Linked DNA regions of Homo sapiens. The protein of the gene in region 4 purifies or fractionates together with the protein of the main gene of each other region. This does not show direct contact. Each region holds a gene or a part of one and is shown on either strand. Other genes may lie near its edges.

Region 1 (3,294 bases), on a different chromosome or scaffold from region 4:
TTGGTGTGTAGACTTTTTTTATTTTTGTTTTTGAGATGGAGTCTTGCTCTTTCATCCAGACTGGAGTGCAGTGGCACAATCTCAGCTTACTGCAACCTCTGCCTCCTGGGTTCAAGCGATTCTCCTGCCTCAGCCTCCCGAGTAGCTGGGACTACAGGTGCCCGCCACCACACCCGGCTAATTTTTGTATTTTTAGTAGAGACGGGGTTTCACCATGTTGGCCAGGCTGGTCTCGAACTCCTGACATCAGGTGATCCCCGCCTCGGCCTCCCAAAGTGCTGAGACTACAGGTGTGAGCCACGTGCCCAGCTAGGTGGTGTGTAAACTTTAAAAAAGCAGAGATTTCATCCCACAAATGCAGACTGGGATCTCCACATGACCAGGTGCTGTGGACTGAACTGTAAATGTCCTCCAAATTCATATGTTGAAGCCCTAACCCCCAATGTGGCTCTTCTTGGACATATGGCTTTTAGGAAGTAATTAAGGTTAGATGAGGTCATAATCCAGCAAGATTGGTGGCCTTACAAGAGCCATGTGCAGGCACCAAGAAAAGCCTACGTGAATAAGACAGCAAGAGGGTGCTCACCATGTTGGCATCCTCCGGCCTCAGATCTGTGGGGGACTGCGGGGGTGATGGGACAGGGAGAGAACAAGGAGTGGATTTTCTTGTCCTTTCTAAGGAAGGGGCTGGGAGGGCGAGGGCTGCACTGGGTGCTGGGACCAAGGGTCCAGGGGCTTGGATCTCTTGTTTACAAACCCCTACTTCTTTCCTGCTATCTAGCCCACACCCCTGATGCTCCCCGGAAAGGAGAGCAAGGATCCTTGAACACGCGTTAGCACTAGAAGGAAACTGGAGCTCACCCCAGTTGAGCCCTCCATTTGACAGACAGGGAAGCTGAGGCCCAGGGAGGTGAGGGGACTTGCTCAGTCTTTCCAATTGAGTATGTGGGGCAGAAGGAGTCCCCAGAGCCCCGGCCCCAGCCACCATCCTATTTGACTTTCCCCAACAGGCATTCTACCTCAGCTAAAGATGCTGCCTGCCTCTCACAGGCCCTGAGGAGAAGATGGCCACATCACAGGATCGAACACTACCACAAAACTCCTAGGAAGGGACAGGAAGGTGAGAATCCTTTCTTTTTTTTTTGAGACGGAGTCTCGCTCTGTCGCCCAGGCTGGAGCGCAGTGGCGCGATCTCACCTCACTGCAACCTCTGCCTCCCGGGTTCAAGTAATTCTCCTGTCTCAGCCTCCCAAGTAGCTGGGACTACAGGTACCCACCACCACGCCCAGCTAATTTTTGTATTTCTAGTAGAGACGGGGTTCCAACATGTTGGCCAGGCTGCTCTTGAACTCCTGACCTCAGGTGATCCACCCGCCTCGGCCTCCCAAAGTGCTGGGATTACAGGCGTGAGCCACCAAGCCCGGCCTGAGAATTCTCTTCTGTCAATGGTGTGGGCCTCTCGACCTCACTAACCTATATTGGCCCAGAGGTGATGGTGACAATTTGAGATAACACAAAGTCTCAACTATTTACGAACCTGGTCATCCAGAGAGGGCCCCGGAATTGCTCAAATGAACAGTAAGAATCCTGAGGCAGGGTACTGACCTTGGTAGGTGAAATACCGCCTATACTCTCAAGTTTTATGGATAGTGCAGCCAAATTCCACTCGGATGCCTCACAACTACTTAAAATTGGCTTTTTGAAGCAGCATTTCCCTAACTACTCCCAGGAACAAAGTTCTGTGAAATGTTCATAGAGCTTCATTGAAAAAAAAAAAAAAAAAAAAGCTACAATATTTTTCTTCTAAGATTTATTTTATAAACATGTAAGAAAAGTTGTAGATATTTATTGTGGGTCTGGTTATGCAAGAACAATCTTCCTGGACACAGTGTGCGATTCTCAGTATCAAAAGCATTCTCTTCTTTCAGTTCGTAAAAGAAAAACATGGTTTAACTTCTAATTTACTGCTTATTATAAGGTTTAAAAGCAATTACTGTACTTATGTATCGAACTTATTTGTGTAGCAACTAATTCATCTGTGAAGCCATGGTTTGCTGTGGCTTCACAGTAAATTTTGACTTAAGTCTAAAGCGTGTGTTAGCATCTCACCGTAACTTAATGCTTCGAGTGAGAAGTTTGAGGAATGCTGCTTTAGGCAAAAGAGCCACTGGAGGAATGAGCTCTGCTCTTTTCACCTGCTCTGGACTGCTCTCACTTTCCTCACCGACAGGACCACAGGCTTAAGAACTGGCTCAGCAGTCCTTCTTTAGGGTCTAGCGCCTGCCTACCAGCTTCCTCTACTTCTATCCCGGGACAGATGAATGCTTTTCTAAAAAATATTTTGGACCATCTGCATGATTCCCTAGCAAATGCTTTAGAGAGCTGGTAAGCTTCAGCTCCGACATGGCCAGATCATCAAAATTTGAAGTTTACTCAGGTCTATTTAATGAGATTTTTTTTTCTTATACAACCATATGCACTTCTGAATAATCTTCCCTTTTTCGAATCTGGGGCTTTCATCTGGAATTAGACTAACCTGCAGACAGTGATGCCAGAACTGGGCTGGGTTACCATAATTCATTCATTTACCAAACACTTTCGAAGCACTACTTACTCTGGGCTGGCCTGATGAAAGGATACAGAGATAACACCACAAAGAAACTTGCTCATTAGGAGCTTGCTTACTGGCTAGAAAGGAAAATACAACATGAAAATAAAGCATTGTACGTACATGGCAGAAAAATGACTAGCCTGCCAGAGGGCCCCAGAGCCTCAGAGGATGGAGCCACTCCTGAGGCTGGAGGGTTTACAAACTCATCCCATCTTTACAGAAGACCTGCTAGATGCCAGGCATGCTGGCAGGCACAGGGGAAAGCCCACTCAACAAGCAGACACGGTCCCTGCTCTCACGGAGCTTACAGTCTAGCAAGACAAACTAGGAACAAGAAATTACAGTCCAGTGTAGAGGTGTGCAGGGTTGTGGGGTACAGTGATTTGGCATTATACACACATTTCGCTTAAACACAATGGTATTTGTCTGAAAAAGATTTAAAAAAAGAAAAACAAATCAGTTGTTTGGGCCATTCCGCTGGCCCCTCCTTCACTCCATGAGCATAGACAAGAGGGCGGGCCCGGGCAAGCTCATGCCTCTGCTGCACCTGCGGCCTGCCTCAGTTCCCAAGCTCCCCAAAAGTGATCTTCTCGCCTAAATGTGGTTCTAACACCCCAAAACAAGTGATTTTTGCACAACACAGCCCTAACTGCAGGCCAATCACTTCACCTGGTACTCAACCA
Region 2 (3,500 bases), on a different chromosome or scaffold from region 4:
CCTAGGATTACCTTTAAATGTCTTAGGATGAAAAACTGAAGAAGCTGGTGGAACAGAATGGAACAGATGACTGGAAAGTTATTGCCAATTATCTCCCGGTAAGTTAGTAAGTTTTTCTTATAACGAAAGGAAAGCTTCTCCCAAAGATTTCTATAAAATATTCTAGGAGGAGTTATTAAGATAGTGTATAATTTACTCACATTTAAGAAGTGGGAGAAATGCCCTACCCATAACTTATATTTTATATTATAATGCATATAATTAAATTATTAGAATTTAGATTATTAGAATCGATTATTATAATTTAGATTATCAAATTTTAAAAACAGTTGCTTCTTGTTTTATCTTTTCATTTATAGGATAATTAGTATTTTGATGATTTGTTACATGGTAGTTGATTAAACTTGATATTTCCTCCAAGTCAGTTTTTCCTGAATTCCCTATTTTTGTCAATAGCAATACTTTTGGCACCAAGGTTTAAAATTCTGAAGACCTTTCTTGACTTATCACATTCCCCCAACCCCTACATCTAAGCAGTTACTAAGGACCCTGGAATTCCTTTATAGTCAGTCCCGTCCTTTTCATTCTCATGGCTGTGCTGAAGGTTGGGCTCCTGCCCTCTCATTTGGACTATCATATAACTTCCTAACTGGCTTCCCCACTTGTAGTTTTCCATTTTTCTTTCTTTTTTTTTTTTTTGTTTTTTGTTTTTTGTTTTTTGAGATGGAATCTAGCTTTGTTGCCCAGGCTGGAGTGCAGTGGCACGATCTCAGCTCACTGCAACCTCCGCCTCCCAGGTTCAAGCGATTCTCGTGCCTCAGCCCCCTTAGTAGATGGGATCACAGGTGCCCGCCACCATGCCTGGCTAATTTTTGTATTTTTAGTAGAGACAAGGTTTCACCATATTGATCAGGCTGGTCCCAAACTCCTGACCTCAAGTGATCTGCCCACCTCAGCCTCCCGAAGTGCTAGGATTGCAGGCATGAGCCACCGTGCCCAGCCAGTCTTCTACTTTTCCATTCATCCCAAACACCATTGGCAGGTGGAACTTCCTAAAATGCAGCTGTACCTTATCTTTTCAAAACCAACCACAGTGACAGAATCTCACAAATTAAGTAAACTGCCTTGACTTGGCACACAGAGGCCCTCCTCTATTGCCCCAACTTACAGCTCCAGTTCTGTTTCCTGCTTCCTCTCTCTAAGCAGGTTTGCTTGAATTTATTTCTGCTTTACCTCCTCTGGGCTTTTGCTCCTGGTCTTCCCACCTCCTAGAATATTCTCCCTTTATGTCACCAATTAAAGTTCTGTCCATCCTTCAAAGTCCTTATGAAGAGCTCTTCAAGACTCCTCCCAAGGAAACCATTTCTCCTCCTAAGAAGATGCTTCTCTCCTCACTTCAGTATCATTTTGCTTTGGTCTTTTCTTCCAAGTGAATCAAATTCAGCATCTGTGATAGTCAGTCATCTACTTGTCTTTTCCTTCTTATAAGTTTACAAACTCCTGTAACATAGGACCTATCTTTTATGCATCTTTTTTCTTTCTGCAATATAAATACTTTGGTCCTGGATTGAAGCACATCTCTTGTCTGAATGGGAAGCAAACTTTAGTCTTTTAGGGTGGTTTCCATGAAAGCCTGACAACATAGAATCTCTATCAAGCCTCAGGCTATGTAGATACTCTGCAAAAGTATCTGAGGTTAAGGTTAACTTGGCAGGCACATGTGTAGTATGATGGTCCTTTAGATCATGTGGCAGGAATGTTTCCCTCAGGAGGCAGAGTGTCTAATTTTAGATGCAACTTTGATATATTACTTGCATGTTCTGTAGCCTGTAAGTAATGAGGGATAGATGGGCTCTAAACATGCTCTAAAATGTTCTTAAATATTTTCACTGCATATGGTCTATGTGTGATTCCTATTACAACAAAAAATTCACGTGCTTATCACATCATATCTTTATGGTGGTGCATACTTTATTTGTCTAGAATCGAACAGATGTGCAGTGCCAGCACCGATGGCAGAAAGTACTAAACCCTGAGCTCATCAAGGGTCCTTGGACCAAAGAAGAAGATCAGAGAGTAAGTTCTTTCTTCATTGGTGTGTGACTCATAATTAAGAATATTCCCAAAATGCTAATATTTTCCTATTTGAGGAAGCAGGTAAAATGGGCAAACAGGAAGTAGAGGACTCTATTCCCATATTTCCAGTGAATGAAAGCAAATTTTGGAAATTTTCTAAAGATCTTGTAACACTGAAGAATGATTATACTGACTCATTACATAACTTTAAAACATAGGTTATTTTTGTGTGTTTATCTGAAGGTGATAGAGCTTGTACAGAAATACGGTCCGAAACGTTGGTCTGTTATTGCCAAGCACTTAAAGGGGAGAATTGGAAAACAATGTAGGGAGAGGTGGCATAACCACTTGAATCCAGAAGTTAAGAAAACCTCCTGGACAGAAGAGGAAGACAGAATTATTTACCAGGCACACAAGAGACTGGGGAACAGATGGGCAGAAATCGCAAAGCTACTGCCTGGACGGTAATAATATGTCAAAAAATATATTGATCGGGAAGAATGAGGGAGTGGGTATTGAACATTCTGCTTTAAATGTATGGTGAGTAAATTATATTTCATCAGTCGTAAGTGTTTTATTAGATAAACCAGCTACATAGCTTTTAGAGATTGAAGACATCTTAGAGTTTATTTGGTTGAGAACTTCCAGGATCCACCTGACAGTGAGCCCTGGGTGAAGACATTTAGCTTTCCCCAGCCTCAATTTCCCCATTTCCAAAATGAATCATACAGGGCCAGTGTTAGGATCAAGTAAAATGAATGTCAAAGGACTTGGTAAACTATAAAACTCTAAATGCATAGAAAGAAACTGAAGACAGTTTGTCTCTGGCAGTTCACGTAGCTGGTTAAGTTACTCAAAGGAACTCAGCTACCATTTTCCTGATAACCATCATTCATTTCTTTTATTTTTTTTAATTATTATTTTTTAGAGACAGAGGCTTGTTCTGTCACACATGAGTGACAGAGTGCAGTGGCATGATCATAGCTCAATACATCCTTGAACTCCTGGGCTCAAGGGATCCTCCCACCTCAGCTTCTTGAGTAGCTAGGACTACAGGTGCACCCCACTACACCCAGCTGATTTTAAAATATTTTTTGTAGAGATGGAATCCTGCTATGTTACCCAGGCTGGTATCAAACTCCTGGCCTCAAACAATCCTTTCACCTCCCAAAGTGCTGGGATTATAGGCATGGGCCACCATACCTGGCCACCAGTATTCATTTCATTATACCACTTTGCTTAATTTTTTACTTCATTGATTAAAGAAATAATGTATTTCTTGAATTCTCATACTACTTCCAGGTTTTTAAATAATGTCAGGGTAATAATGCTTTCTTTTTAATGAACAAGGCAAGAAAATGACCTCATTATGAGGGATAACTATGGAAGCTCATTTTGTCCCATTTTTCCCACTTAAGTAGTAT
Region 3 (3,500 bases), on a different chromosome or scaffold from region 4:
ATTACTGGTGGCCCCGCTAAGGCACCACGCGCACTAGAGGCCCCTCCAGGCAGGAGAGGTCTCGTCTAACAAGGGGGGTAGAAAGTAGAGAGGTAAAGTTTTACGAAAGGTGGCTGTACATCGCTCTTGGAGCCAATCGCCGATCCGGCACACCAGGTGACCCTCCTTGTCATCTTCCACACTCCGGCTGCTGCGCTTACTGCTCTGTTGGCTTCTCTGCATGCACCGCCCCCCGAAACGCCATCCGACCAATCGCATGGTAGGCGGTTCCGATTGACAGATTGAGGTGTCAGTCAAAGGCAGAGGTGGAGACGGTGAGGAGCCGGTGGGTTGGTTGGTTGGATTTTCCAGATCCCAGCATTTCATAAGGCACACAGCATATATAACGATAGGGATATTGCAAGGGACACGTCAAGACACAAACTGACTTCAAAAACAGAAAAGTAAAAACAGCTACAGGTATGTAAAGAAAACTCGGACATTATCTTTAAGAGGAGCGCCACAAACGCTCAGGAAGATGACCTGCCTCTGCTGCTGAGGGCCACGCTGTGAGGAGAGCCATCGCCCCGACTCCCTCCTCCTCCTCCTCCGAGTCTCTCCCTCCCAGACCCTCCCATGTGGCTTTGGGCCAGAGCGGAAGATGCAGTGAGAACGGCGGCGCAAGAAGGCAGCTGGCCCCGCCTGGGTCCAACCATCCAGACTGGTCAGCGGCTGCTCCGGCTTCAGCTGCAGAATGCCCAGCCTGTCCTTGCCTGCCTCTGTTCGCCCACGCAGACTTGCACATGCCTGACAGCTGCCACTCACAGCCAAGCTGCTACCTGCCTCCAGACGGCATCCTTGGCCAGATTTCACCATCACTACCAGAAACAGCCTTCCGTCAGCAGCCCTCCTGCCACCAGCCTCAAGAAGGAAAGCAGCCTGGGATCCTCTGGGCCAGTCGACTGCCAGGCTTCCTACCACAATGGCCCACACAGGCCCCATGCCAGCTCCTGCCCTGGCCTTGGCACCCATGCTGCTCACAATCTAGGCCCATCCCAAGCCTCACGACGATCGATAGAGGGCACCAAACAGAGAAACAGAGCCAGACCTGCACTGCCATCCTGTGGCAGCATGTGGCAGTGTGCAAAGAGGTGAAAGGGCCACGCTGCAATCGCCCGCACAGTCAACCCTCAACCTGTAGCCACTCAAAGAAGTCACAGAAAGCGCTGGGCAGAGAAGACACCTGGCCTCTCCACTGCTCCTCAGGGGCCTCAAGGCCGGCAGGAGGGAGGCAGGGAAGAGGGATGGGGGAGAAGAGAAGACCGCACGTAACCTCGGAAATACACAACTGGCTTTGCTTCCCCAGGGGACTGAGCGCAATGTGGGCTCCAGAGACCTTACAACCCTCCATGCTAGGAATACTGGCCAGGCCCTGCTCTGGGCATGTGGCCTGCAACTGGACGAGGCCTGGGGCGGCAGCCTTTCTGCCATTTCTTCACATGCCCCATCACACAGGCACCTGCCCCTCCTCACCGCGACTGCCCCTCGTAAAGAGGCTCGGCTGGAGAGGGCCTGGCTGGAGATCAGAAGGGAAGTTCCCAGTCTGAGCTGGCTGACAGGCAAATCCTCCGGTCCTGTGAGGCACTCCAGACTGGGGGCCTTTGGGAAGGGGTGTGCAGATGAGACGCAGAGGTGGGTGCAGTCCACATCAGAGCACTCAGTTACACGAGGAGGCAGTCTCTGGGTGGGAAGGACCAGGCCATATAGCTGCAGACCACCATACCAGCCACTCTACTAGGATCCCTAAGAAGTGTCCTAAGAAGTGTCCCCAGCCACTTGCACCACGTGGCCTTTGTCTGGAGCACTGTGTAGACATAGACAGGCCAGGGGCCAGCCAGCATCGGAGCCAGAGTTCCTACAGTTGCCACTGGAAAGAGCCAGAAGACACAGAGGCCAGGACCCTGTGATCAGCCCTACACCTGGACCAGACAACACATACACACACACATGCACGCACACCAGTGCACGTGCACAGGGCTGGCAGTACTCACCCGGACCAGCCAGCCTGAGAGAAGGCTAGGAAGAGATGAGGCCTTTAAGCCCCAGCCAGCACACTCTGGCTACCACTCACCGAGGAGGCGCTGCTACAAGACCTGGTGCGGCGTTTGTGGCAGTGGTGGGCATGCTTGCGGGTCCGGTATGGCCCCCTCTCCCGCGATCGCCGACGATGACGAGAACGTGAAGGTCCATAGTAGTCCTCTCCAAAGGATGGGCTCCGCTCTTCACACCGGTATGTATCGCTGTCACGGCGCTCCCGGTACCTCCTCTGGTAGGGCAGGCGGTCATGGCTGCCAAAAGGGGGATGGGGACGCTGGTCAGCTGGGTCCTTGCTGTTAGCAAGCAAGAGACCTGTGGTAAGGCCACTGTAAAGGGCTAAAGGGGGACAGCCTGTGCTAAAAGCATCCACACTGGTGGGAAGTGGGCAGAGAGGGGAGGGTGCAAAGGTACTAAGCCCGCCCTCCAGAGCCCTGTCCAACGACAGCATCCTCCAGCTGTAGGAGGAGGGGTACAGGGGAAGGGGAGTATGGTAGAGTGCCTCCAAGGGTTCTATACCCTTCCAGAGTTCCCTGTGGCCTGCTGCAACTCTAAGTTTGACCTGGGAGCTAAGATAGGCCCAGGGAGCAAACTTTCCAGGGGTGAGGTTATGTTCCTAATCCTCACCAAGGAAGGCTTAGGAGGTTAAGCGGAAAGATGCTGGCCTAGAAAATGGGGGAATGTGTGGGGAGAAGAAAAGGCACTCCAAGACAGAGAAAGAGTGGGCGGCAAGGATGGTAGCTACTGCTGAGGCCAAGGCATGCAGGTGAGGTTAGTGGAGGAGCCCAAAGAGGACAGGGCAGGGATCCAGGGACAGCTGGGCAGGGATGGAGTCATCTCAAGGAGTCTGGAGCTGCCACAGCTGAGCCCAGCTGACAGAAGGAGTCTTTCCCTCCTATCTAGTTCCCTCTCACCTTCTGGACCGAGATCTTCGTGGGGGAGGCTCCCTTCGGGACGGGTATCGCAGTCTCCCTTCATGTTCCCGACTGTAGGACCTCCTCCTCTTCCATCGGTAGCTCAGGTACGGGTCTGGTTCAGGGGAGCGGTATCGCTTACAGTGATGCATCTAGGCCACGAGGAACAGAGAGCCCTGCTAAACACACAGCCAGCCACCTCCAGCCATGGGGCTGCTGGGGCTTCCCGGTTGCTCCTGAAGAGGCCCATTGTTCTGTTTGAAGGCGGCCCCTCCCAGAGGTTTATGAAGTGAAGAAGAACTCTGAGGTCACACTGGTCAAACAGCAGACAATAGGAAACAACTTTCTCTGCCAGTGAACAAACAAACAGCTCCCAGCAGAGCATCACTAGCCTGGTGGCCTGGGTGCTCAGGGAACTGGGTGAGCCAGGGCCAGGGGCTGAGGCAGTAACCCTGGGTGGGGACGGTGAACACTACCACAGGGAGATCAAAGGCAGGAGAAAGGGGAGCCTCC
Region 4 (3,500 bases):
ACAATTCTCAACTGTTCTTCGGCCTGAAAGTTAAAAGTAAAAATTAATTATAGAAATGTATTAAAAATTATCATATGTACCCCTGCAACAGGTGTTATCTATTATGTATCTACAAAAAAATTTTTAATGCAAATGCAAAAAAGGGGGTAAAAACAAGGACTTCCTATGAATTACATGCCTTCAAAATATTTTAGTTATGAGGTGACAACTTACACACAATGGCATGTGTCATAAAATCTGACGAAGGTCACATAGTTTGGTAGAGAAAAAAGAATTAAGAAAATTAAAAGAGAACCCTTTATTAATTACATCTACATTTTCTGTCTTTCATTTTCAATGAAAATAAATGAACAAATTATGGAAAAGCATTTACACATTTTGGAAGTGGAAATTAATTTCCACAAATCACATGTTGAGATGACAGATTTTGTTCTATACCTATTTTTATCTCTAACTTCATTGTACCAGATTAATAGATTGTTAATTATAAACCGAGGTACAGATTTACTCAAAGAGCAGGTTATCTACCAATTGCCATATTTATAGTTGAAGGGCATACACACACACAAAAAAACAGAAACATAGGAAAAAATCTCCACTGGGGCTTTTTGTGTGGTCAAATCATGCTGAAAAAAAAGGGACTATATTATAGTATCAGTAGACAACCAAGAAACACGACAGACCCAATTACCTGAAGAAAAATATTACAAAACCTTCTGACCTGACTAACTATAAAGTGCTATCTAATTTCAAAAGGACACTGGTATAACTGATTCCACTCCTGCAGTGCCTTCAACTCCTTCCATGTCAAGCAACTTCTTTCCCGCATTCTTCCACAGATTTCCCCCTCTTTACCAAAGTCAGGCCCTTCTCATGCTTCCTAGAGATACCATACACACATCTTCAATTCTCAATTCTCAACCAAGCACAATTTTAATCCCTTCCCCAAGGGGACATTAGGCAATGCATGGAGATGATTCTGGCTGCCACAACTGGGAATGGCTCCTGGCATCTAGTGGGTGGAAGACTGGGACAATGCTACACATCCTATAATATGGAAGACAGCTCCCACAACAAAGAATGATCCAATCAGTGCCAAAATTGAGAAAGCCTGCTCTAACCCTTTTTAATATCAGTTATCATGATTTATCCTTTTTCCCCTCTATCTGACAGTGATCTTAAAACATTCGCTGCATCCTTTGAGCTGCCTACCTATTCCCATTCAAAGTCAAATTTTAGGTCATTGATTCCATCTCCATTATTCTACTAAAATTTTCTTCTGTATGGTCAAAATCTATCAAATTCAGTGATTTTTCTCTTTATTCAAATAAATTCTTCTGTTCACTTAAGTCTTTTAAAAACGTTCTCTCTTCTGATACATTCTCTAATGCCACACACTAATTACTTCTTTTGTCTCCATTGATATATATGTATTTTTTAAATAAAGTGTAAAGTGACTGGTTTACAGGCATTTATGGCAGAGGAAGATGGAAAAGGTAACAGGACTCCGGTATGCAATAAAAAATGTTGAGATTTTATCTTAAGTAGCAAAAAGGGAAGAACGCAAAGAAGTTTAGACAGCAATGTGACGTAGACTAAAAGATAGGTGTTGGAACAAATCAACCGCAGTCAAGTAAGGTTGGAGATAACAAAGATCAGAATTACAAGCAGTGAGAGAATCTGGCAGGTGAGCATGGTGGAAAATCCAACAGAGAGCTAAAATGTATCTTTAAGATACAGCTCTCTAAAACCTTTTTCCTATGCTACATTTAGACCTGGCTACTGGACACATCCACCTGGGAGACCTAGGACTTGCTTCAAAATTCAACATGTTTCAAGATTTAAATTCTTCCACTTTATCCTTAAAATAAATCTGCCCTTTACACTTTCCCTTCCGCCACTCAAATTCTATAGCTTTATTTCATCTCTTCCTTCTTCAGTCAAGTTTGTTACTTCTTGTTTTATATTCTCTGCCTAGAGTTTATTTTCATTTCTTTTGCCAGCTTCATCAGTTTAGGGCCACATATCTTTTGTACATCTAAAATGGTGCCCGTTTCCAGTGTGTCCTTCAATCCATCCTACACGATACTGCCAGACTCACCTTTCTTGACCACTGCTCACTCTTTCTTGTTCTCAAATTGCCAATGATATCCACTGTCCATGGCATACAGCTTAACTTCCTAAAGTATAATGTTTCTCTAAGACAAGATTTTCTATAACCTGGCTCCAGCTTTGTTTCTACTCCTCTTCTAAATTCTCCTTTCTATCTTGTTCCCCCGTCTTTTGCTCATGCCATTCTTTCCTTCTATGGAAATCCTACCTGTACATCAGAATCTATTTCAAATAGCCACTCTCTTCCTTAGGCTTTCACTGATATTACAACAAAAAGAACTGCCTGCTATCGGTCATCATTAATGAATTCATATGCCAATCACTTTATCCAGTTTTAATAAATCATCACAAATTTGGGGTAAGAGCTTAGTGTGTGCAACTGAATCAAGATGTAGTAAGGGTTCTTTGGATGTGTGTGTGTGCCTAAGAAACATTTTATCAATATAAATACTCAGATTCACTTTCTTCTAAGGTTCTAACTCAACCCTAGGAAAGCATCCTAGAGCCCTGGAGAGTGAGGGTACATAAAGAACATCACAACCTTAATCCATAAGAGAAATCTAATGAACATTACAAATATACCATTTTTTACCCTAGAAGACAGAAATTCAAAGTGTGACAGCACACTGCTGTGGTTTCAGTATGTCCCCCAAAGGTCGCTGTTAGAATTAACTGGCATTGTTAACAGTATTAAGATGTGGGGCATTTAAGCAGTGATTAGGCCATGAGGGGTTCATCCTCATGAATGGATTAATTCTGTTATTACCCGAGTGGGATGTGGGTTGGTTACCATGGGAATGGGCTCCTGATAAAAAGACGAGTCTGGCCACCACTTTTCTCTCTCTCTAGGGCCCTCTCTGTCTAGCTTGCTCGCCATGTGATGCCTTCCACCATGGGGAAACCTCATGGGATGCCTGTGCCATGTTCTTAGGCTTCCCGGCTTCCAGAACCCTGAGCCAAATATTTTTATAAATTACCCTGTTAGAGCAGCAAAAAATGGACTAACACACATATGCTATCATATAAAGAGCACTCTCACACTATCAAAATTACATCTTCGTAATACTTTATGCCAGCAAGTACATTTTCTGGAATTTACATTATGTACTTGTACAGCAATGTGCAAATTTTGCACCCATGCGAAACTGATATATTTACAGGGTTACATATTACAACACAGTTTATAGAAAGAAAAGAATGTGAAAAAAACCCAAATATCCACCAATATGGGGTACACTAAATAAATTACTGAAGATATATAAAGGAGAATATTGTATAGCCATTAAAAACAAGTAAGAGGAAAAAAGGAGGCCCCTATGTTCCGCAATGGAAAAATCTCCAAGTTACACTGTTAAATGAAAAAAAGAAAGTTCCTTGTGTACATGCTA
Region 5 (3,500 bases), on a different chromosome or scaffold from region 4:
TGGTGCTGTTTTCTGCACAGGAACAGGATAGAGGAGATGGTCACATCAGAGTGTGGCCTCTCTTCCCACTCCAGGAGCTCTGGAGACAGCAGCCTGACATGTCCAGAAGAAGCTGTTCCCACCACCCAGCAATACCTCCTAATCCCAACCCTCCTGGCCACCTCTGGGAGAGGCCATAGGAAAGCAACAAGGAAGGCACTGGAAGCGCAAGAGTCCTGCAGTTGTTCCTCCCCAGTGCAGGGGGTTCTGCAGCTCCGAGAGCCAAAGGGCTTAGACCAGGGCTGATGAGAGACACAGAGGAGCCAGATCAGGGGACATGCCATAGCATAAAGGGACAGCAAGTAGGATGAGCAGCTAAGATCAGCCACCTGGAGTCAAGGGAAATGACTGAATAGAAGCGGCTAGAACATGGGCTAAGGAAAGGAAAAAGCAAGGGACAAAGGGTAAAAGAGAGGCGGGAACTTGGAGTCCTGCTTGGGAAGAGACAGGGAAGGGCAGAGGAGCAGGGCTGCTCACCCTCTCCGAGGGAATACACCTTGAAGCCAGACACTTTCTTGGCCAGGACGGACTTGGGCAGGTTGAGGAGGGCAGGGTTGTAGACAGGGAAGTCATGGTAATACTTCTCCAGGATCCACACTGCCACGCGCTGGATGCTGTGGGGGAGACGGCAGGAGGGGGTGGGAGAAGGGACAGACCAAGGGGCACAGGGGAAAGGGACACATTAGGGCAGGTTGGCAGGGCAGGAGAGGACACAGGACAGGGACAAGCTGCTTCCGAGAAGCCTGACTCCGGGCCTGAGGTCTACTTACCAGGCTCCCAAGCCTTTCCCAGGGCTGGGCCTGCCAGTCCCTCCCCACCATGCCAAAGCCTAGCAGAGAAAGGGCATTGGGCCTGGGTCCCCAGCCAAAGATCACCTCATCCCCATTCAGCGTTCCCCCAAGATCCTCTACAGGACCCAGGACGTGCCACTGATATTCTGTGTGGCCTCGAGGGGTAGCTTGTTTACTGGGAGCTGAAGAACTCTCCTCCTTATCTCTTTCTCTGGGGATCCCTCCTCTGGCCAGGTCACTTCACAGGCCACTCTGAGTGCTCACAAGAAGCTGCGCCTCCCAGAAAGGACTAGAAAAGGGATTCCAAAAAGCCCCTGTTTGTGCACCCCCCCATATTTCTTCCCTTTGGTCCATCCCCCTCTAATATTCCCTACCTCTAAATGCCTATTCATTCCCATCTCATAACTCCCAACTGATCTTGCCCCAAGACCGTGTACATGAACCTGCCTATCAAGCAGCAAACATTGGTGAAAACCTACTTGGTGCAAAGTACTCAACTCCCTCCCACACAACCCTCCAAGCCCATCACCTCCAGCCCACCATCATACCCTCCCACCCTAGCAGTCACTCCACATCCTCCCATGCCCTTTCCCTCCCAACCCTTCTCCAGCCGTGGGCTAGTACCTGAGATGGCCAACGTTGTAGAAGCGGCTGGCGCCGTCGGTGGAGCGCACGACCTTGAGCGTGAACTGAGGCTGGAGCTGGCGCAGCTCCAGCAGGACCACGGCCAGGTAGTGCACGAAAAGAAGGGCGTCCACCAGCGACACGGCGAACTGCACCACGCCCTGGTAGCTGCGCTCCCGAGCATCCAGGATGCGCACACCATAGAAGAGCCAGTAGGAGACCACGAGCAGGAAAACCAGCACCATAAGCAGGGCACGCAGCACAAAGACGCGGGGCAGCGAGGCCTTGGGCCGGCGGAAGAACAGAGCCCAGCTGCCCAGTAGCAGGATGAGCAGCTTGAAGGCGACAGAGATGAAGAGGCCCTCGCAGGCCGTCCCGCAAGGCTCCAGCTCCTCCCGCCACAGCAGTGGGGGCAGCAGCAGGAAGGCCAGAGGCGTGAGGAAAGACAGCAGTGCCAGGGTGGCCCCCGCTGCCACACCCAGGTGACGGGAGCAGTCCAGAGGGACACTGTCCTCCATGTCCTTGGCGATGCGTGTGAGGTCATCATGGGAGATGCTGTGCTCTGAGGTGCCCGTTACTACTGTCGTCGTTTCCCCCCAGTTGTCATCCTACAGGCAGAAGGGGGCCAGCCACACAATAAGGAGGAAAGGATAAGAAGAGGAAGAGGAGGGAAACAGGAGAAAGGGTGAGGGGACAGGAGACAGAGAAGAACACATGGGAAAGGAGAAGGCAGAAAGAAGAGAGGGTAATCAACAAATACGCAACCATCAAAGTATTTACTGAGCTCCAATGTGTGTCAAAGTCTGGCCTCTGCAGATGGCCAAATCCAAGACCCGAGCCCTCGGGGAGCTGGACACTGGTCAGTGAGAGAGGAAAAAACCACACATGCGGCAATGACCCTCAGAGCAGACAGCACAGGACAAATGCTGAAGATGCTGCTCAGGCAGTGACTGGGATCCAAGGGCAAACTCGCCAAGCAAAGCAGGCAGGCTTCCAGAAACCGTGGGACCTGAGCTGATCCTTGGGGGAAGGGGGCTCCAAGGAAGATGTTCTCAATCCCAGATGCACACATTAGAACACTTAGGGAAGTTGGAAAATAATGCTAATTATTGGAGAGTGCAATCTGCTTGTGAACCTTTAAAAAAAAAAAACAAAAAACTCCCCAGATGATTGTAATGGTCATCCAAGATTGAGAATCACTGAACTAAATGATTTCTAAGGGCTGGCTGGCTACTTAAAATGTGATCTGTGGACCAGCGGTGTGGACATCACCTGGGAGCTTGTTAGAAAGGCGGAACCTCAGGCCCACCGCATGTTTACTGAACCAAATCTGCATTTTAACAAGATCCACATGAATCACTCAAACATTAACATTAATTCTGGAAGTCCTGCTGGGCACGGTGGCTCACGCCTGTAATCCCAGCACTTTGGGAGGCCGAGGTGGGCAGATCGCCTGAGGTCGGGAGTTCGAGACCAGCCTGACCAACATGGAGAAATCCCATCTCTACTAAAAACACACACACACAAAAAATTAGCTGGGTGTGGTGGCACATGCCTGTAATCCCAGCTACTCGGGAGGCTGATGCAGGAGAATCGCTTGAACCCAGGAGGAGGAGGTTGTGGTGAGCAGAGATCGTGCCATTGCACTCCAGCCTGGGCAACAAGAGCGAAACTCCATCTCAAAAAAAAAAAAAAAAAAAATTATGGAAGTCCTATCTAAGTTCCTTCCAGCATGCCATGATTTTGGCAGAAGCTAGAGGAGGAGCCTCCAGGGCAGGAATGGCATGAACTGAGGCACCCAAGGGCTATGAGAGCAGAGGATCCCTGTGCAGAAGCACAGCAAGGTGCAACCAGGAAGGTAAGGCAGACAGCAGCCAGGCAGGGCTTGTGCAGGCCACGCTGCAGTGCTGGGCTGGGCAATAAGCACCTGTTCTCCAGGCATGGAGAGCCACTGAAGGAGTAAACCTGATCAAAGCAGCACAGAGAAGAACAGAAGACCCCAGGGGTAAAGGGGTGAAGGCGTGAAGGACACTGTGCAGACTCAAG
Region 6 (3,500 bases), on a different chromosome or scaffold from region 4:
GATTCCGCATCCCCCTCAACACTAATTATTCAAAATACTTGTTAAGTTACACATTGGTTTAACATATGTACTAACAATCCACATGTCTTATATACATATTAAGTATCCCTTTTCCAAAATGCTTGGGATCACAAGTGTTTTAGATTTTGGATTTTTGAATATTTGCATTATACTTTCTGATTCAGCATCCCTAATCTGAAAACCCAAAATCTGAAATGCTCTGATGAGCATTTCCTTTGAGTGTCATGTGAATACTCAAAAAGTTTTGGGTCTTTGGATTAGGCATGCTCAACCTGCACATATTTTCCTCAAAGTATACTGACTTAGACAGGTAGTTCCCAAAAGACAAAGGCTATATTTATAGACTTTTGCTTGAGATATTATGCAAAATTGGGTGCCTATTATGATTTTATGTATTTTTTGAGACACAGTCTCGCTCTATTGTCCAGGCTGAAGTGCAATGGTGCAATCTTGGCTCACTGCAACCTCTGCCTCCCGGGTTCAAGCGATTCTCCTGCCTTAGCCTCCCGAGTCACTGGGATTACAGGTGCCTGCCACCATACCCAGCTAATTTTTATATTTTTAGTAGAGACAGGGTTTTGCCATGGCTTTTTCACGGTTTTTCCAGGCTGGTCTGGAACTCCTGACCTCAGGTGATCCTCCTGCCTCAGCCTCCCAAAGTGCTGGGATTAGAGGCGTGAGCGACCACACCCAGTCTGGGTGCTTAATATTTTCTATAATGTGAAGAAATTAATTAATCTTGCCTGAACCAATCCCATATACTAGGTTAGAGCTCCCTACTATAATATGCTCACATAATACTCTGCGTTGCCTTGCACAGTAGCCAAAACAACTGTAACTAATGTCCATGTCCTCACTAGACTAAGTTTCTTGGGGCTGAGACTTGTTTCTTTCTTTACTATATTCCTCGTGCCTAGCATGTGCCTGGTATACAACAAGTACACAATAAAAATTTGTTGATTAAACCACAGCAGATACCCAACTCCAGAGGGTGACTGAATGTGTTAACACGTAATATACACAACTGGTGAAGAGATGAAAAAGAGCTGACTGTTGCCAAATTCAGAGGTAGAAGAGTTGAAGAGGTACAGATGAGAAGAAAAATCACACTGCTTCGTAAAACACTGAGAAGGTAACACAATATATAGGTGAAAGCAGACTTCAAAAAGGGTATACTTTCCATGAGAAACAGATGTCAAATATCAATGTCACAGAATTTCCCTGGGACTTTCATGGAGGCTTAGCATGAAAGGAGGTGTAACTACCTCCCCCCACCAACTACGCAGGATTGACAAAACAGCGCAGTGGGGAGGGAGATACGTACTGGGCGAATGTCTGCTGAGCTCCAGCTCTGGTCTCTCCAGGCTGCTCTGAAAGTCAGGAGGCAGCAGGGAAGCCACTCCCTCAGGATGGATCATCTCGTCCTCCGACTCAGCTGAAGCTTCTGCAAAGTACAGATCGGGTCGGGGCAGGGAGGGAGTGAAGGACTCAGCATGTAGGAATATGTAGAGGAGTGAAGGAGGTCAGGCAAAGTCACAGATACAGAGATACATACCAAAAAGAGCACCGTATAAAAAGAAAAAACTCCCTGGGATTCAGCTCTACTTCATCTAAATGGTAGCTTAATTTACTTATAACTCTTCCTGTTGGCAGGAATCCTCTTCTAACAAGACAGTCAAATTAAGTGTCCTCTTCCCTGACAAAAGTAAATAGTAAACCACTTGGCTTCATGGGCTATGAAAGCAAGTAAGTAGCAGTCTCAGCCTCACTTATTTCTGAAATTGTCTAGTTAGACAGGCCTATCTACTTGGTGACAGGGATAAGAATGACGAACTCCTTGTTAAAAGTGACAATCTGGGCTTACCTTCAAGTTCTGCAGCTTCTCGAGCTTCACGTTCCAGACGCTGCCTAAGTAGCTCCTGCTGCTTTTCCAGATACTGTTTTATGAAACTGTTCTGGCTCATTTCCTCACCAATCTGTGTAGAGGAAATGAAAACAGAGGGTCTAGGAAAACAAACCAGGAGAATGCAAAGAAGAACATTCCATGGAGCAAAGGTCCACTCCTTATAGTTGCGCCCAAGAAAGATAACTAAAATGTTGGAAGGCTTTTTTCTAAGTTAGTTCTATATTGAAGAACAGAATAGCCTTGAGTCACACACAAAAAAAGGGCAAAAAGAAGAGCTGCACATAAGTTTTTGATTTAAATATTCAGTTCCCAAAGAGTGATACTGGTATACAAATTACTATTCTTTATTTTTATTTTTTGAGACAGAGTTTCACTCTGTTGCCCAGGCTGGAGTGCAGTGGCGTGATCTTCCCTCACTGCAACCTCTGCCTCCTGGCTTCAAATGATTCTCCTGCCTCAGCCTCCTGAGTAGCTGGGATTACAGGTGTGCACCACCACACTCGGCTGATTTTTGTATTTTTAGTAGAGACGGGGTTTCACTATGTTGGTCAGACGGGTCTCAAACTCCTGACCTCAAGTGATCCACCCGCCTCAGCCTCCCAAAGTGCTGGGATTACAAGTGTGAGCCACCGTGCCCAGCCACAAATAACCTTAAATTAAAATTCCTGTAATTATATCTTTTAGGCTAAATTCCTAGATTACGTGGAACATTATCTAAAGGGTAATCTAAAATTTCCTTTTGGTAGTATCAAGACTGAAACATGGGGGCTCACGTCTGTAATCCCAGTACTTTGGGAGGCTGAAGTGGGAAGACTGCTTGAGCTCAGGAGTTCAAGATCAGTCTCAGCAACATGGCAAAACCCGTCTCTACCAAAAATACAAAAAGGTGGGCATATTGTGGTGTGAGTCTGTCATCCTGGCTACTCAGGAGGTGGTGGGTGCAGTGAACTGAGATCGTGCCACTGCACTCCAGCCTGGGTTAAAGAGCAAGACTCCATCTCAAGAAAAAAAAAAAAAAAAGCCAGTTCCTCCAAAAGATCAACCGTTACCTATCCAGGAAACATTTTTTTTTTTTTTTTTGAGACGGACTATCACTGTCATCCAGGCTGGAGAGCAATGGCGCGATCTTGGCTTGCTGCAACCTCCGCCTCCTGGGTTCAAGACATTCTCCTGCCTCAGTCTCCTGAGTAGCTGGGATTACAGACATGTGCCACCACAACCAGCTCATTTTTGCATTTTTAGTATAGACGGGGTTTTGCCATGTTGGCCAGGCTGGTCTCAAACTCCTGACCTCAGGTGATCTACCCGCCTTGGCCTCCCAAAGTGCTAGCATTACAGGCGTGAGCCACAATGCCCGGCCTCATATCCAGGAAACATTTTATCAAACAACTCCAAAATTCAAGTATAGTATTTAAAAGTATGAAATCAAGAGACTAAGAAAAGGGATATCCATTCAGCATTTAGACAAAGTTATAACTCCATTTTGTCTGGGTGAAAGGAAATCCTTGGTAACAGGAGCTTATGCCTTTTCCTATTTTTTTTTTTTTGTAATACAGATTCCCAAGTTGCCCTT
Region 7 (3,500 bases), on a different chromosome or scaffold from region 4:
AACAACTGGCAACAATAATGAAGCAATAAGAGCAAGGCGCTGAAAAGACACAGGAGGCCAAAGAGGTTTCTGCCTCTGAAATTTGTATGTATCCTTTCACTCGGAAAGAAAACAGTCAGATGCAGTGGCAAAGGGGGTGAAATTAGGACACCAACTTAGAAAAAGCTAGTTTCAGTTAGTAGCTAAATCAGCAAGACAGACATCGCTCATCATCAAATAACTCCGAATCTAGTAATGACCAAAAAAACCATGATTTATGAAATGTATGGGCTATGGTAAGAAGCGGTGGTGGTGAAGGTCTCAATCCCATAAACTAATAATCCTTCAACTTGCAAAGTCAGAAGTATCACCTACAGTGAGAGAAATTCCTATTTCAGACGATGGCCAGAAGCAGCCAGGACTCTCCAACACTGCTGGTGGAAGTGGACCGTGGTACAGTGCCTCTGGAAAACCACTCTGGCGGTTTCATATAAATCTAAATATACACTTAGCTATATGGCCCAGCAATTCCACTCTCAGGTTTTATCCAAAAATTAATAAAAATATACATCCAGCCAGGCACGGTGGCTCACGCCTGTAATCCTAGCACTTTGGGAGGCCAAGGCAGGCAAATCACCTGAGGTCAGGAGTTCGAGACCAGCCTGGCCAACATGGTGAAAGCCCATCTCTACTGAAAATACAAAAATTAGCTGGGCGTGGTGGTGCGTGCCTGTAATCCCGGCTATTCGGGAGGCTGAGGCAGGAGAATCGCTTGAACCCGGGAGGTAGAGGCTGCAGTGAGGTGATATCATGCCGCTGCACTCCAGCCTGGGCGACAGAACAAGACTCTGCCTCAAAAAACAAACAAACAACAACAAAAAAAACCCAAATGTCCATCCACTAGGAGAATGGATAACAAATTGTGGTAGACTGATACAATGGAATACTACTCAGCAAAAATAAAAAGAATAAGCTGTTGAAACATACCAAAACATGGATAAATCTCAAAATCATTATGCTAAGCAGGGCGGGTGGGTGGGGGCAGGAGATGGACCATATGATTCTAATTATACTAAATTCAAAAACAGGCAAAATTGATCTACAGTGATAGAAATCAACACAGTGGTTGCCTTGGAGAGGTGAGGGTGGGGCAGAGATTGACTAGAAAGGGCATGAGAGAATTTCCTGGGGTGCACATGTATGCCTAAAACATGTAGATACACAAAGGATCCTGTTAAGCTTCAGGTTCTTAGAAGAAAAAGCACCTAAGATGCTTTCATCAAAACCCCTAGATTTTCAATAAAGAAATTGAGGCCTACAAAGGCTGTGACTGCTCAAGGTAACAGAGCTACTAAAAAATACAGCCTCCAAACACCCATCTCAATGCTTTTCACACCAGATCATCCTGGGGCAACACCAAGAGCTTCTCAAAGTGTTCTCAGCTACGAGGTGCAGAGGAGATGCAGAGAAAGAAGAGCCTTTGCTGTAGGCCACTGGCACCTCTGAACCCACATCCAGGAGGAAACTGACCCCTTCAAGTACTCCAGGGTGATCCAATCCTAAGACTGGCCCCATCCGACCATCAGCCATCCCAGAGCCAAGGCAGGCAGCACTAAAGGCATTTGCTCATTGCTCAATGAATCCCACGTTCAACCCACAATTGTAGTTTTGTGTCCCAAGAACACCTTGTGTACTCTGAGGAATTCCAGTTTCAGTCCACCTATTTGATTATAAATGCTTACCTGTGTGTATGCACAGGTATGTACAGATGTATGCTTATCTATAGTCCTATATCTATCTTTACAGCTGTGTATCATACACCACTTTGTTTATGAGGGGCAAGGCTGGACATGTGTATATATACTTCAGGATGTGCAGAGGGTATGCAGACATGTTTCTGTGTATAGCTCAGATGTTTATTTAAATCAGGTGGGCTGCCAGACAGTTGGAACCTGGAGAAGAACCCACTCAATGGTTCAAAAAAATTAATAAAGTATCAGTATTTCAAAAATACTGTAAAGTTAGGATTCCACATAAAATCCTGATTTGCAGCTTTTCTCAAACAATGAATCCCTGCATTCCTGAGCAACAGTAGGTGTCTGGAGCTGCGGAGCTGCTGTTTCCTTTACAGAGGAAATGCATTCTCCAGTTAGCCATAGGCTCCTTCACACCACACTACAGCACTGACACTGAGGCACTGCACAGATTGCTGTTAACCCAAAGCTAGGTTAATATATTTTTGCCCCCTCTTTTCGACCCAGGGCCTCCTTAATTAACTTACGTTTCTCTACCAGGCATCTGAGCGTGCGGCCTCTCAATTCCTGCATAGCTCTAGTAGTAATGGTCAGTCTGGGCTGCCCCATGTTTTTTAAACTTCTTAGGTTTTCTGAGTTTCCTTCTCCCCCTTATACTGTTCCATTTTGAAATGAGTCGTGGGAGACTTCAGCTTTTCCCTTCCCAACCCTGTCGTCAACCTTGCTGGCTACTTTTCCACACCATGTAAAGCAGGCCAACCAATCATACTTCAGAAGAATCCCCACGCTACCAAAGGGCAGGACAGGCTGTCCTTAGACCAACAAGAGACCATGGGACATAGATAAACTAATTAGCATGCTAGAAAAATAAAGACAAAAATCCAAGAGAACCTAAGGAAAACATTTACAGACAGGAGTCTTGGCCAAGTGGCAGTGTGCTTACAGACCACCTTTGATCCTTACCTGAACTTCCTCTGTCCGAGTAGAATCATTTCCCAACAGGGGCTCTCCAGTGGGAGGTTGAATGGTGACAGACTTTTCTGACCCTCTGCCGTCTTTATTCCGGGGTGACTTGTGTCTCTCTCTAGTTCTTTCCCTGAAAAACAACAATGAGCTAGCACATTTATGCCATGTTAATTAACTCTCTGGGTTTATCAAAATGTAAGTATCATTTTGAATTTAGGGAAATTCTACATACACACACACACACACACACACACACACACACACAGAGCATCAAAACCCACCCATCTTCACCACACTTCAAGGGGTACACTGATCTTTACTCCCTACTAAATATTTTCTTTCTGCCATCCCAAGACCCAAAACAAAGACTGTCACTCTTCCTCTATCATCAGTGATATTTTCTCAAAGCCTAAAATTGTAATTTTAGGATTTTTGTAGCTAGTTACACTTTATTGTAATAATTAGTGATTTGATTTGGTTATAATTTGCCTTAACCAGTTTTCTAGGGCTTTTAAAATTGGGACAACACTGTAGAATAAGCTTTTTTCTACAAAAAAATATCTATTTTTTTGTAGAATATCCAAAAAAATCTGGGACACATTGTCACCCTTCACCTTTGGACAACAGAAGAAAGGAAATTCAAAGTCAGTACAAAGAATTGTTTACTTCTCATTCTTACAGGTTCAAAACTAAGTCATTCCCATAGGTTCTAGTTGAACTTGAAGACACCCATAGAAACAAACAAGCTAGGAAAAAAGGCCAAAGACACCAAGAGGGGTGGAGGGTGTGTGGGTGGATGTG

What was found.
Region 1: the proteins of ARGLU1 (region 4) and NCBP3 purify together in Homo sapiens (co-immunoprecipitation; 2 studies listed by BioGRID and IntAct, with this or other methods). This does not show direct contact.
Region 2: the proteins of ARGLU1 (region 4) and MYB purify together in Homo sapiens (co-immunoprecipitation; one large-scale study listed by IntAct). This does not show direct contact.
Region 3: the proteins of ARGLU1 (region 4) and CLK3 purify together in Homo sapiens (affinity purification with mass spectrometry; one large-scale study listed by BioGRID and IntAct). This does not show direct contact.
Region 5: the proteins of ARGLU1 (region 4) and VANGL2 purify together in Homo sapiens (affinity purification with mass spectrometry; one large-scale study listed by BioGRID and IntAct). This does not show direct contact.
Region 6: the proteins of ARGLU1 (region 4) and ACIN1 purify together in Homo sapiens (affinity purification with mass spectrometry; one large-scale study listed by BioGRID and IntAct). This does not show direct contact.
Region 7: the proteins of ARGLU1 (region 4) and VANGL1 purify together in Homo sapiens (affinity purification with mass spectrometry; one large-scale study listed by BioGRID and IntAct). This does not show direct contact.

The regions. Positions count from the first base shown.
Region 1 is NC_000017.11:3,804,953-3,808,246, forward strand, and holds part of NCBP3 (nuclear cap-binding protein subunit 3), read right to left. Parts: 3' UTR 1-3,294. UniProt on the Homo sapiens protein: Associates with NCBP1/CBP80 to form an alternative cap-binding complex (CBC) which plays a key role in mRNA export. NCBP3 serves as adapter protein linking the capped RNAs (m7GpppG-capped RNA) to NCBP1/CBP80.
Region 2 is NC_000006.12:135,187,808-135,191,307, forward strand, and holds part of MYB (transcriptional activator Myb), read left to right. Parts: intron 1-26; coding exon 27-98; intron 99-1,983; coding exon 1,984-2,076; intron 2,077-2,319; coding exon 2,320-2,540; intron 2,541-3,500. UniProt on the Homo sapiens protein: Transcriptional activator; DNA-binding protein that specifically recognize the sequence 5'-YAAC[GT]G-3'. Plays an important role in the control of proliferation and differentiation of hematopoietic progenitor cells.
Region 3 is NC_000015.10:74,618,836-74,622,335, reverse strand, and holds part of CLK3 (dual specificity protein kinase CLK3), read right to left. Parts: intron 3,140-3,500; coding exon 2,988-3,139; intron 2,328-2,987; coding exon 2,111-2,327; intron 217-2,110; coding exon 120-216; intron 1-119. UniProt on the Homo sapiens protein: Dual specificity kinase acting on both serine/threonine and tyrosine-containing substrates. Phosphorylates serine- and arginine-rich (SR) proteins of the spliceosomal complex.
Region 4 is NC_000013.11:106,544,138-106,547,637, forward strand, and holds part of ARGLU1 (arginine and glutamate-rich protein 1), read right to left. Parts: intron 24-3,500; coding exon 1-23. UniProt on the Homo sapiens protein: Dual function regulator of gene expression; regulator of transcription and modulator of alternative splicing. General coactivator of nuclear receptor-induced gene expression, including genes activated by the glucocorticoid receptor NR3C1.
Region 5 is NC_000001.11:160,417,564-160,421,063, reverse strand, and holds part of VANGL2 (vang-like protein 2), read right to left. Parts: intron 2,063-3,500; coding exon 1,455-2,062; intron 1,120-1,454; coding exon of another isoform or gene 1,071-1,119; exon of another isoform or gene 666-1,070; intron 654-665; coding exon 517-653; intron 13-516; coding exon 1-12. UniProt on the Homo sapiens protein: Involved in the control of early morphogenesis and patterning of both axial midline structures and the development of neural plate. Plays a role in the regulation of planar cell polarity, particularly in the orientation of stereociliary bundles in the cochlea.
Region 6 is NC_000014.9:23,088,637-23,092,136, forward strand, and holds part of ACIN1 (apoptotic chromatin condensation inducer in the nucleus), read right to left. Parts: intron 1,998-3,500; coding exon 1,886-1,997; intron 1,466-1,885; coding exon 1,346-1,465; intron 1-1,345.
Region 7 is NC_000001.11:115,658,970-115,662,469, reverse strand, and holds part of VANGL1 (vang-like protein 1), read right to left. Parts: intron 2,830-3,500; coding exon 2,697-2,829; intron 1-2,696.